Regions from separate parts of the Homo sapiens genome. Here region 2 is linked to region 1. Evidence: fine-mapped expression QTL. A gene starts in region 1. The other region holds a variant in brackets. All regions are shown on one strand. Distances are between the middles of the regions.

What was found. PIP is the estimated chance that this variant, and not a neighbour inherited with it, causes the effect.
Region 2: its variant is the best candidate, but not a certain one, in a credible set for the expression of VSTM4 in left ventricle (GTEx, PIP 0.63).

What each region holds. Positions count from the first base shown.
Region 1 is chr10:49,112,984-49,118,367 of GRCh38, reverse strand. It overlaps VSTM4 (V-set and transmembrane domain containing 4), which reads left to right and starts at 2,846. Exons shown (of 8, transcript NM_001031746.5): 1 at 2,846-2,937. The coding sequence starts at 2,883.
Region 2 is chr10:49,003,115-49,008,498 of GRCh38, reverse strand. No RefSeq gene overlaps it. Among named protein-coding and RNA genes, the nearest start is that of MIR4294, 20 kb to the right of the region's middle. The variant A/G (reference allele first, on the strand shown) is at 2,278.

The DNA of each region.
Region 1 (5,384 bases):
CTTGATGGTCTTAGTTTAGGGATATATTTGCTGTGTGCAAGGTCCATTACAAAACCATGCTGTACTCTTCCATCTCTGACCCAGGTTCTAACAAACAATTGGATAATGAAAGAGGAAAAGCCCCGGCCTGCCAGGTGATAGCAGAATGCACTTGTTGGAGAAAATCTGGATTTCTAAGATTCTTTCAGTGGCAACTGGTAGAATACAGGATTAGTTGAGTAGGCTCTCCATATAGCTTAGTGTCCACAGGAATCTGGATCAACTTTAGAATGGTTTGAACACCCTCTTCTTATGAGGTAAACAAAAAATAGAATTGGATTGTATTATTCTTCCAATTCAGTACAAAGTAAGACCTGATAGAGCCAAGGTATGGACAAAGAAGCCTGTGAAGGATTTTCAAATGGTCCTAAGCTTGTGAATGAGTGAGCAGGCAGCAGAGCTAAGAAAACCATTTGGAAGGCCTTTGCCAATGTAGTCCAGAAGAGCTGAAAGGCCAAGTCTTATCCGGGTCACTGGCTCTGTCTCCCATGAGGGCTGAGTATATTCCCTTGTTCCTGTGTTCATGCAGCAAAGGTTTTACCAGGATGATCAGTTAGATTATATGGGAAGCTGAAAAGTACCAGCAGTGCACACAGCTGTAAAATCAGCACAATGTTACCTGTAGCAGAAAAGTACAAGAAAAGCACTTTCTAGCCTCAAATCTTTGGCACAACCCCAGTTTGGTAAAGACGAAGCAAGTCAAGGGTGGCAGGCTGAATTTCTGCTCTGTTTTGCAATGAGAGTTGGATATTTAGCAATATACAACGACCAAAGCAGGAGTTGCCTCCTCCAAGGGTGGCTGACACATCTAAGGGGTCCCTTCTGCTTTTCACCAACTGGGAGAGTAAATTGAGACCAGCAGGTTGAGGTGGGAGGTTACCAAGGATACCAAATGGCCCTGCCACATCTCTAGCTGCTCTTAGTACAGCCATGTCAAGACGCCATTTTACATGTGTCACCTTCACTTGACAAATGAAATTCAGAGAGGTTGTGCTGCTCCAGGACCCAAGGTTGTTGCCCAGCCAGAGCGGGTCACAGATCCACTTTCAGAACCAGTGCTCCTCTTCAGACATCCTCCCTCAGTCTGCCAAACACTGCCCCAGGCTCCAGGGCTGAGTCAACAGTCTGCAGTCAGAGTCCAAGTTCCCAGTTCAGACATTTGGTGCCCCACAGAACCTTGTACGGGTCCCTGGTCTTCTTTGAGCCTGAATTTACTAATTTGTAAAATGAGGCCTAGGACATTATGTGGATGGGACGTGAGGCTCGTTTGCTCATGTATAAAATTGGTTTCCAAACTCTGGTCTGGAAGCCTCACTTGGTTCTAGTTTGCATTCCTGGGCTGCAGGAGTCCATCTGACCCCAGTTCTAGTCCTCACTTCTTGTCCTTGGCATCATAGCCAAGTACCTTTGTTGCCAACTCACTATCGGGTCCTCAGGCCCTTCCACCAACCCAAATTATAGATGGGGCTGCTTTCTCCAGCCTGGCTGCCTTGATGGTCAGTCCAGTCCCTGCAGGGCCCTGGTCCACAGATGAGTCTCCTAGCTGGAGGATCCCATGGGGTCCAGAGACCTCTGGAAGTGCCTGGGGTTCAGAGATGTCACAGAGCCTTTGCACCCACTGGCCTGGGGTGCCTGAAGAGGATGGTCCCTCTGGGGAATGCCCTGGGGCTCACACTAGTGGGCTGCACCCTCTTTCCATGCCACCCACACCTCCTCACTCCCTTAGAGGGAAGGAGATGAGGGCCCTGTCTCCTCCTCCTCCTACAGGGACCCACTCCCAACCAGGGCCCACCTGCTAGCTGCTGCTACCCCTCACTGGAACTCCACAAAGACCTCTCCTGATAGACACACACAGAATAGACCTAACATGTGCTTTTCTTGCTTGGAGATGGGTTAGGCTCAGACCCTAAGTTTAGAACAGTGGCAAAGAGACCAGGCATTGGCTCAGAGTGACAGGGCTCTGTGGTTGTGTGACATGGGTCTCTTTCATGTGGCTGCTTCTGCTTCCTTATGTATAGTAATAATAGTAGTGTTCACTGACACCCGTGAATCGGGTGCTGGGGCAATGCGTTAATGGGAATGGTGTAACTTGGTCTTCCTAAACACCCCAGAAGGGGTGGGCCCATTTCCCCATTTTACAGGTGCAGGAAACTGAGGCACATGGAGATTACAGAACTGTCCCAGGCCTGACCGCGGCGGGGTTCAGTAGCATCTGGAAAATCACTTTAGCCCAGGCCTGGCTGAGGCACTGTAAATGGGCACTTTTGTTAATAGTTTCCACATATTCTGGGCTGGTCTGTGTGGACCCTCTCAGTTTTCCAAGGGTTAGCACCTCGGACCCCGCCCTCCATTTCAGGGCAGCAGAAGGGGCTTCTCCCCCCTCAGCTGCTTGTTGGCTCCCGAGGGTCCTGTGGAGTGAGCGCAGGAGGCCCACGACCAGCAGGTGAGTCTCAGGCCAGAGGTTCCCTGGACGCGCCCCCACCCCCTGGCTCCCAGATCCCGCCTTCCCTTAGGAATAAGTGCATCTGTGGGCAGAGGACCGCCGGTCGCACTGCAGCTGTGTGTTCTGTGAGTCACCAGCGATCACCTTGCAGAAACTCAGTTTTCTCATCTGGGAAATGGGGCTGTTGAAAGGAGACGCCACAGATCCTGGAGCGAACCGATCGCGCGGCGGCTCCCGCGCCCGGTGCGGGCCTCGGGACCCAGCAGCCCCGGCCCCGCGTGGCAGGCGGCCCAAGGGGCGGGCCGGGGGCGGGCGCGAGCGCGGGCCCGGGGCGGGCTGGCGGCGGCCGGGCCAGGCGGCGGCGCTCTCCCGCGTCACAGCGCCGGGCGGCGGCGGGGAGATGCGGCTGCTGGCACTGGCGGCGGCCGCGCTGCTGGCGCGGGCTCCGGCTCCGGGTAAGCGCGGCGGGGCCAGGCGGGAGCGGGAAGGGTGGGGGCCGGGCGGCCGCGCCGGGGAGGCCGGGGCTCCGGGCCTGGTGGGGAGGCCCTGCCACCTCCGGGCGCGGGCGGGGGGCGGCGCTGTCACTGTCGCCAGCGCGCTCCGGTGGGCTCGCCGAGGGTCTGGCGGGCGCAGCGGCGCCTCCCCAAGGTTCAGAGGACGCCTCCCGTGAGCGCGGTCCCCGTCCCGACCTCGCCTGGGGCTGGGTACTCTCGCAGCAGCCGAGATCTTCCCAGCGGCAGGCCCCGAGGGGAGATGCAGCAGGAGCGCAGCCCAAGTTGGTGGTTCGCTTTCCTTTTTTCCACGGCAGTCAGGACACACAGCTCTTGGCAGATTCCTCGGAGCAGCAACTTCCCTTTCACTCTCTTCGGAGAGTTACTCCGAAGACAAGTCAGGAGCGGCTGGATCTGCCTTGGCCAGGAGGTGGGGAACGGGGACTTGATCGTGGGCCTTTTGAGGTGACCAGGCCTGGTGAGAGGGGCATCCACGGCTGGATGCAGCGACGCCTCTCCACCAGCACCCTGCTTTGAGGACAACTTCTTGGTCCACACTAATGGCTTTCATTCGGGTTTTACTGCTCCCACTTGTAAGTGTCTTAAGAATTTTCCCTCTTTATTCCCCAGAACTCTGTCTGGCTGCCTCAGGGCAGCAGGGGCCGTACTGGCTGGAATAATAGTAATAATACAGGTATCGATGGTCACTTTCCCTGGGTGCCTATCTGGGCCTATCTCATTTAATTACAACACTTCCAAGTAATAATGACTACAACACGTTTATATATCCAAGTATTAAAAAAAAAAAACATGAACTTGGTTAATCTCACCAATAACCTCTGAAGGAGGTGCTATTATTATCCCTATTTTATAGATGAGGAAACTGAGGCTCAGGCCCATGAACGGACTTGCCTTAATTCAGTAGGCTTGTAAGTGGTGGAGCTGGGATTTGAACCCAGTTAGCCTGGCTCTGGGCTCTGTCAATAACCACTAAACTGTGTTGCCATTGTTTTGAAAATTAGGAAACTGATGCTCAGAAGTCATTTTCCAAGAGTGATCTGGCTACCAAGTGTAGAGCTGGCATTTGAGCCAGCATTAATCCATAGATCCCAGTCTGAGGAGGAGGCACTTGGATAACAGTGGGAAGAAATCCATCTACTGTCCCCCAGCTATGAGTGCAGCCAGGTTCCCAGTGAACCTGAAATCCTTGCTGCGGGAAATGTACCTTTTCCCAGTTGTCACTGTCTCGGCTGGAAAAATGATGAGAAGTTTGCCTTGGACTGGTGGGCAGGGCCAGTTCTCGTGGTCTCTGTGGAGTAGCCAGCAGCCAGTGGTCCTTCCTCTCCCAGGCTCCATGACCACCTTCTAATTGCAGGAGCTGTCAGAGTGGGTGTCCCAGAGATTGTCTTTTGCTGGGGATCAAGGGCATTCTCACATTTCCAGAGCCCTCGGGAGCCTTGAGAGCTGGAATTCAGGAGCCTTTAGAGTCTGCCCTGGCTGTGCCCATGGTCAGCCCTGGAGGATGATAAGAGCTCCTGCTTGTGGGACACTCACTGTGTGCCACCCACTTTTCTAAGTGCCTCATTCATGACTCCTCACCACGATCCTGCTGGGAGGGGCTGGCAGACCCATTTTATACATAAGTACAGCTTCTTAACTGCTGTACTTTTCTGCCTCTCCATTTTGGGACTGACCAGGACCCTAGTGGTCACCTGGTCCCATGTCTCATTTTACAGGAAAGAAAACTGACAGACAATATATTTACGATAGCAAATCTGTAGGCTTGAGAGGTGGCTGAGCTGTCTTTGAAGCAAGATGGCCTAGGTTCGAATTCCAGCTCTGCCACTTACTATGTGAGCTTGAACAAGGGCTTAGCCTCTCTGTACCTCAGTCCTCTTGTCTATAAAATGGGAATAAACAGAGTATCAGGATAAATTGAGAAAATACATCTAAAGGGCATAGAGTTTGTACCCGGCAGGTATTAGCCTCTATCATTGGGCAAGGTGATATTTTTATCCTGGATGGAGCTATTTTCAGGTGATAGGCTAATGTGAGTGAATCAGTCCATGGGCTAGGTCTGGCATCACCTCTGCTTAGTGCTCAGTAAATACTGGCTCCTGGTGCCAAAGACTGTTAAGTAATATAACTATTTCTTTCAGAGATTTAGCTGTATGAATTCAGACTATTCTTTTAATAAGAAAGCTCACTGCTGCTGATCAGTACTGACAGTTTGCATTCCTTATAAACTTAGAGGCTCTGGTCTCCCTGAAGTGAGCAGGTGCAGTTTCTTCAGGCAGAGAGGAAGTGGGAGGCACACAGCTACGAGCACATCCCTGGCCTGCTCAGAACCGAGGGACTGTGCCCACCTCTGCATCCCAGATGAGGCTGCTGCCTTGTTCTGTTAGTTGTCC
Region 2 (5,384 bases), 110 kb after region 1:
TTCTAACTAAAGGCATCCAAATTCTCTACCCCAAACCACAACATTGTCCAGAGCTTCCACAACTCAGAAAAAAAAAAAAAAAAAAAGCACTGCTATGTTTATCCTGTTGGCAGCCCCCTCTGCCAGTTTCCATCAAAGACCAGCCTGAAATAACACGCTTGTCTGGGGGTGGGGACATGGCTGAGGTGGCTGGCAGCACCCTCTGCTGTGGTGGGGCCAGGGTGGCCTTGATGGGAATTCTGAGTGTTCACACCTTGGGGCCCTGCAGAGGCTCCTTCTCTGTAAAACAAGAAAGAGCTGGCACATTTGTACAGAGAAACACTGGACCAGTGTGGACCAGGGAGCCAGCTCAGGGCTAGTCCCACACACTCAGTTCAGCTCTCCCCAGCAGCATCTAAAGGCACCCCAGGCCAGGCGTGGTGCCTCATGCCTGTAATGTCAGCACTTTGGGAGGCCGAGGTGGGTGGATCACCTGAGGTCAGGAGTTCAAGACCAGCCTGACCAATATGGTGAAACCCCATCTCTACTAAAAATAAAAAAATTAGCCGGGCATGGTGGCATGCTCCTGTAGTCCCAGCTACTCGGGAGGTTGAGGCAGGAGAATTGCTTGAACCCAGGAGGTGGAGGTTGCAGTGGGCCAAGATCACGCCACTGCACTCCAGCCTGGGCAACAGAGTGACACCCTGTCTCAGGAAAAGAAAAAAAAAAGAATAAATAAATAGAGGCACCCCAGTCAGAAAACCACAGCTAAGATCTTGGGTCTGGAGGAAATGTCCTCAACTTCCTAAGAAGAAGCCTGGCCTCAGTATCTAGATAGTTTCAGGCTACTGTGTACAGGCTTGAACTGATTTTTAAAAAGCAAAAGACAAAATTTTATTTCATCCCAGCTCTGGAGCAAGGTTGTGAGAGCCACTTATGTTTGTAAGCTGCTTATAGTTTGCAAAGTGTGTTCCTGGTATATTGTATTTTTCCCCTGAATTCAACACATACATATTTTAAGTACTCTCTCCGAGGAAGGACCAGGAGTTGGTCTAATTTCAGCCCATTCTAGGACTTCCTAGCTATTTAACGAAGGCAGGGGCGTCTCCTGCTGCCTCCTTATACCCAGACAGGCTTACCCCCTCATGCTCTTCATCCATATCAAGTTGCCTTTCATCCTCCAGTGACACCACATCACTGTCTGCCCTGCAATCTGTGATGTTCAGACAGGCTCTGTGTTTTCTTCTGAGTAACTGTGTGACTCTGCAGCTCACACACTGACATCTCGAAACAGAGAGAAGTGGAGCTTTTAAACATGCACAAGGCCAAGTCAGACCCATGCAGAACAGATGACCTTGCATCCACCCTCTGAGCGCTCCAGTACACTGCATGTGCCCCTGCCGGGTTGCCCCCACTAGGATACATGTTTCCCTGTTTTTATTTTTTGTTTGTTTGATTGTGGTAAAACTTACATAACATTTACCATTTTAACTGTTTTCAAGTGTACAGTTCAGTGGCATTAAATGCATCACATTGCTGTTCAACCACCTCTGCCATCCATCCCAGAATTTCTCCATCATCCCAAACTGAAACTGTCCCCATTAATAACTCCTCATCCCCCTCTACTCACCAGCTTCTAGGAACCACCACTCTGCTTTCTGTTTCTTTTTTTTAAAAAAATATTTTATTTTAAGTTCTGGGATACATGTGCAGGATGTGCAGGTTCGTTATACAGGTAAACATGTGCCATGGTGCTTTGCTGCACCTGTCAACCCATCACCTAGGTATTAGGCCCCGCATGCATTAGCTATTTATCCTGATGCTCTCCCTCCCGTGCCCCACTGACAGGCCTCGTTGTGTGTTCTCTTCCCTGTGTCCATGTGTTCTCATTGTTCAACTCCCACTTATGAGTGAGAACATGTGGTGTTTGGTTTTCTGTTCCTGTGTTAGTTTGCTGAGGATAATGGCTTCCAGCTTCATCCATATCCCTGCAAAAGACATGGTCTCATTCCTTTTTATGGCTGCATAGTATTCCATGGCGTATATGTGCCACATTTTCTTTATCTAGTTTATCATTGATGGGCATTTGGGTTGATTCCATGTCTTTGCTATTGTGAATAGTGCTGCAATGAACATACACGTGTATGTATCTTTACAATAGAATGGTTTTATTTCTATACATTTGCCTATTCTAAGTGCCTCATTGTAGCGAAATCAATATGGGGTTTATCTTTTTGTGCCTGGCTTATTATTTCAGTTAGAATAATGTCCTCCAGGTTCATCCATGTTGTAGCATGC[A/G]TCAGAATTTCCTTCCTGTATAAGGCTGAATAATATTCCATTGGATGTACAACCACATTTTGCGCATCCATTTATTTGTGGATGGACATTTGGGTTGTTTCTGCTTTTGGCTGTTGTGAATAGTGAGGTTATGAACATGGGTGTGTAAGGACCTGTTTGAGTCCCTGCTTTCAAAGGGTGCATGTTTCCTAAGAGTCATTTCATCATAAACAGCACATGGCCTCTCATAGACCCAGTGCCCTATAAATGCAAGGGGACTTCAAAAAGTTTATGAGAAAATTGAATTTTTATATATATATATATATATATATATATATATATATATATATATACACACTTTATTTTTCAACATAAACTCCATCAACATCAAGACACTTTTGTAAATGGTGATACCAGCCATTTAATCAGCCTAAAGAACTGAAGATCCCAAGAGCTTAACCATGTCAGTGCAGTCTTTTACCTTATTAAATGAAGAAAAATGGATGCTCTTTACATATGTTTTAAGATTAGGAAAGAAAAAGAAGTCAGAAGGAGCCCAATCGTGGCTGTAAGGTGGATGCCTAATGATTTCCATCAAAGCTGTCAGAAAATTGCTCTTGTTTGATGAGAGGAATGAGCAGGAGCCCTGCCATGGTGGCAAAGGACTCTCTGGGAAGCTTTCCCGGGTGTTTTTCTGCCAAAGTTTTGTCTAACTTTCTCAACACTCTCATAATCAGCAGATGTTATTGTTCTTTGGCCCTCTAGAAAGTCAACAAGCAAAATGCCTTGAGCAACCCGCAGAACAGTTGCCATGACCTTTCCTCTTGACCCGTCCACTGTTGCTGTGACTGGTCCACTTCCACCTCTTGGTAGGTGTTGTTTTGATCATGCTTTGTCTTCAGGATCATACTGGTAAGGTCATGTTTCATATCCTGTTACGATTCTTCAAAGAAATGCTTCAGGATCTTGATCGCACTTGTTTAAAATGTTCATTGAAAACTCTGTTCTTGTCTGCTGATCACAATGGTTTTGACACCATGGAGTGGAGTGTGCTCAATTTTAATTTTTCTCAGAGTTGTATTAGCTGAGCCAGTGGAGATGTCTATGATGTTGGCTCTTGTTTCTGCTGTTAATCATTGGTCCTCTTCAACGAGGGCCCAAACGAGATGAATTTTTTTCCTCACAAACTGACGTGGATGGTCTCCTGCTGCAGGCTTCATCCTCAACATCGTTTCATCCCTTCTCAACACGAGTTATTCATTTGTTAACTGCTGATTTCCTTGGGACACTGTCCTCATAAACTTTTGTTAAAGCATTGATAATATCACCATTCTTTTACCCAAACCTCACAATAAATTTGATGTTTGTTCTTACTTCAATTTTAGCAAAATTCATGTTGTTCTCAAAGGGATTTTTTTTTCTTTTTTTTTAAAGACTGAATTATCTTTCTATTTGAGGTTGTATAATAAAATTGTTGTCACACAAAGGAGCAATCAAAGAACATACAGAAAAACATCATTTTTTATGGCTGCATAGTATTCCATGGTGTATATGTGCCACATTTTCTTAATCCAGTCTATCATTGTTGGACATTTGGGTTGGTTCCAAGTCTTTGCTATTGTGAATAGTGCCGCAATAAACATACGTGTGCATGTGTCTTTATGGCAGCATGATTTATAGTCCTTTGGGTATATAGCCAGTAATGGGATGGCTGGGTCAAATGGTATTTCTAGTTCTAGATCCCTGAGGAATCGCCACACTGACTTCCACAATGGTTCAACTAGTTTACAGTCCCACCAACAGTGTAAAAGTGTTCCTATTCCTCCACATCCTCTCCAGCACCTGTTGTTTCCTGACTTTTTAATGATTGCCATTCTAACTGGTGTGAGATGATATCTCATTGTGGTTTTGATTTGCATTTCTCTGATGGCCAGTGATGGTGAGCATTTTTTCATGTGTTTTTTGGCTGCATAAATGTCTTCTTTTGAGAAGTGTCTGTTCATGTCATTTGCCCACTTTTTGATGGGGTTGTTTGTTTTTTTCTTGTAAATTTGTTTGAGTTCATTGTAGATTCTGGATATTAGCCCTTTGTCAGATGAGTCGGTTGCAAAAATTTTCTCCCATTTTGTAGGTTGCCTGTTCACTCTGATGGTAGTTTCTTTTGCTGTGCAGAAGCTCTTTAGTTTAATTAGATCCCATTTGTCAATTTTGGCTTTTGTTGCCATTGCTTTTGGTGTTTTAGCCATGAAGTCCTTGCCCATGCCTAAGTCCTGAATGGTAATGCCTAGATTTTCTTCTAGGGTTTTTATGGTTTTAGGTCTAACATTTAAGTCTTTAATCCATCTTGAATTAATTTTTGTATAAGGTATAAGGAAGGGATCCAGTTTCAGCTTTCTGCATATGGCTAACCAGTTTTCCCAGCACCATTTATTAAATAGGGAATCGTTTTCCCATTGCTTGTTTTTCTCAGGTTTGTCAAAGATCAGATAGTTGTAGATATGTGGCATTATTTCTGAGGGCTCTGTTCTGTTCCATTGATCTATATCTCTGTTTTGGTACCAGTACCATGCTGTTTTGGTTACTGTAGCCTTGTAGTATAGTTTGAAGTCAGGTAGCGTGATGCCTCCAGCTTTGTTCTTTTGGCTTAGGATTGACTTGGCAATGCAGGCTCTTTTTTGGTGCTATATGAACTTAAAAGTAGCTTTTTCCAATTCTGTGAAGAAAGTCATTGGTAGCTTGATGGGGATGTCATTGAATCTATAAATCACCTTGGGCAGTGTGGCCATTTTCATGATATTGATTCTTCCTACCCATGAGCATGGAATGTTCTTCCATTTGTTTGTATCCTCTTTTATTTCATTGAGCAGTGGTTTTCAAACTGATGTCTGATCCTTCTTAGTGTCTCAAACTAGATGCTGTTCAAAAATGTTATAATGAGTTATTATGACTTTATTATGATGCAAAAAATTTGAAATGCATCATAGTTTTTTCATCATAAGCATTTTCTACGAGCTTTGTGAAAACCCCTCATGTGCCCGGGCTGCTGTCATTGCCATTCCTCGCCTTTCAGGAGCACGAAGTCCCACACTGTGGCAATGAAGATGTCTTTGGAAGTCAATGTTCTCTTT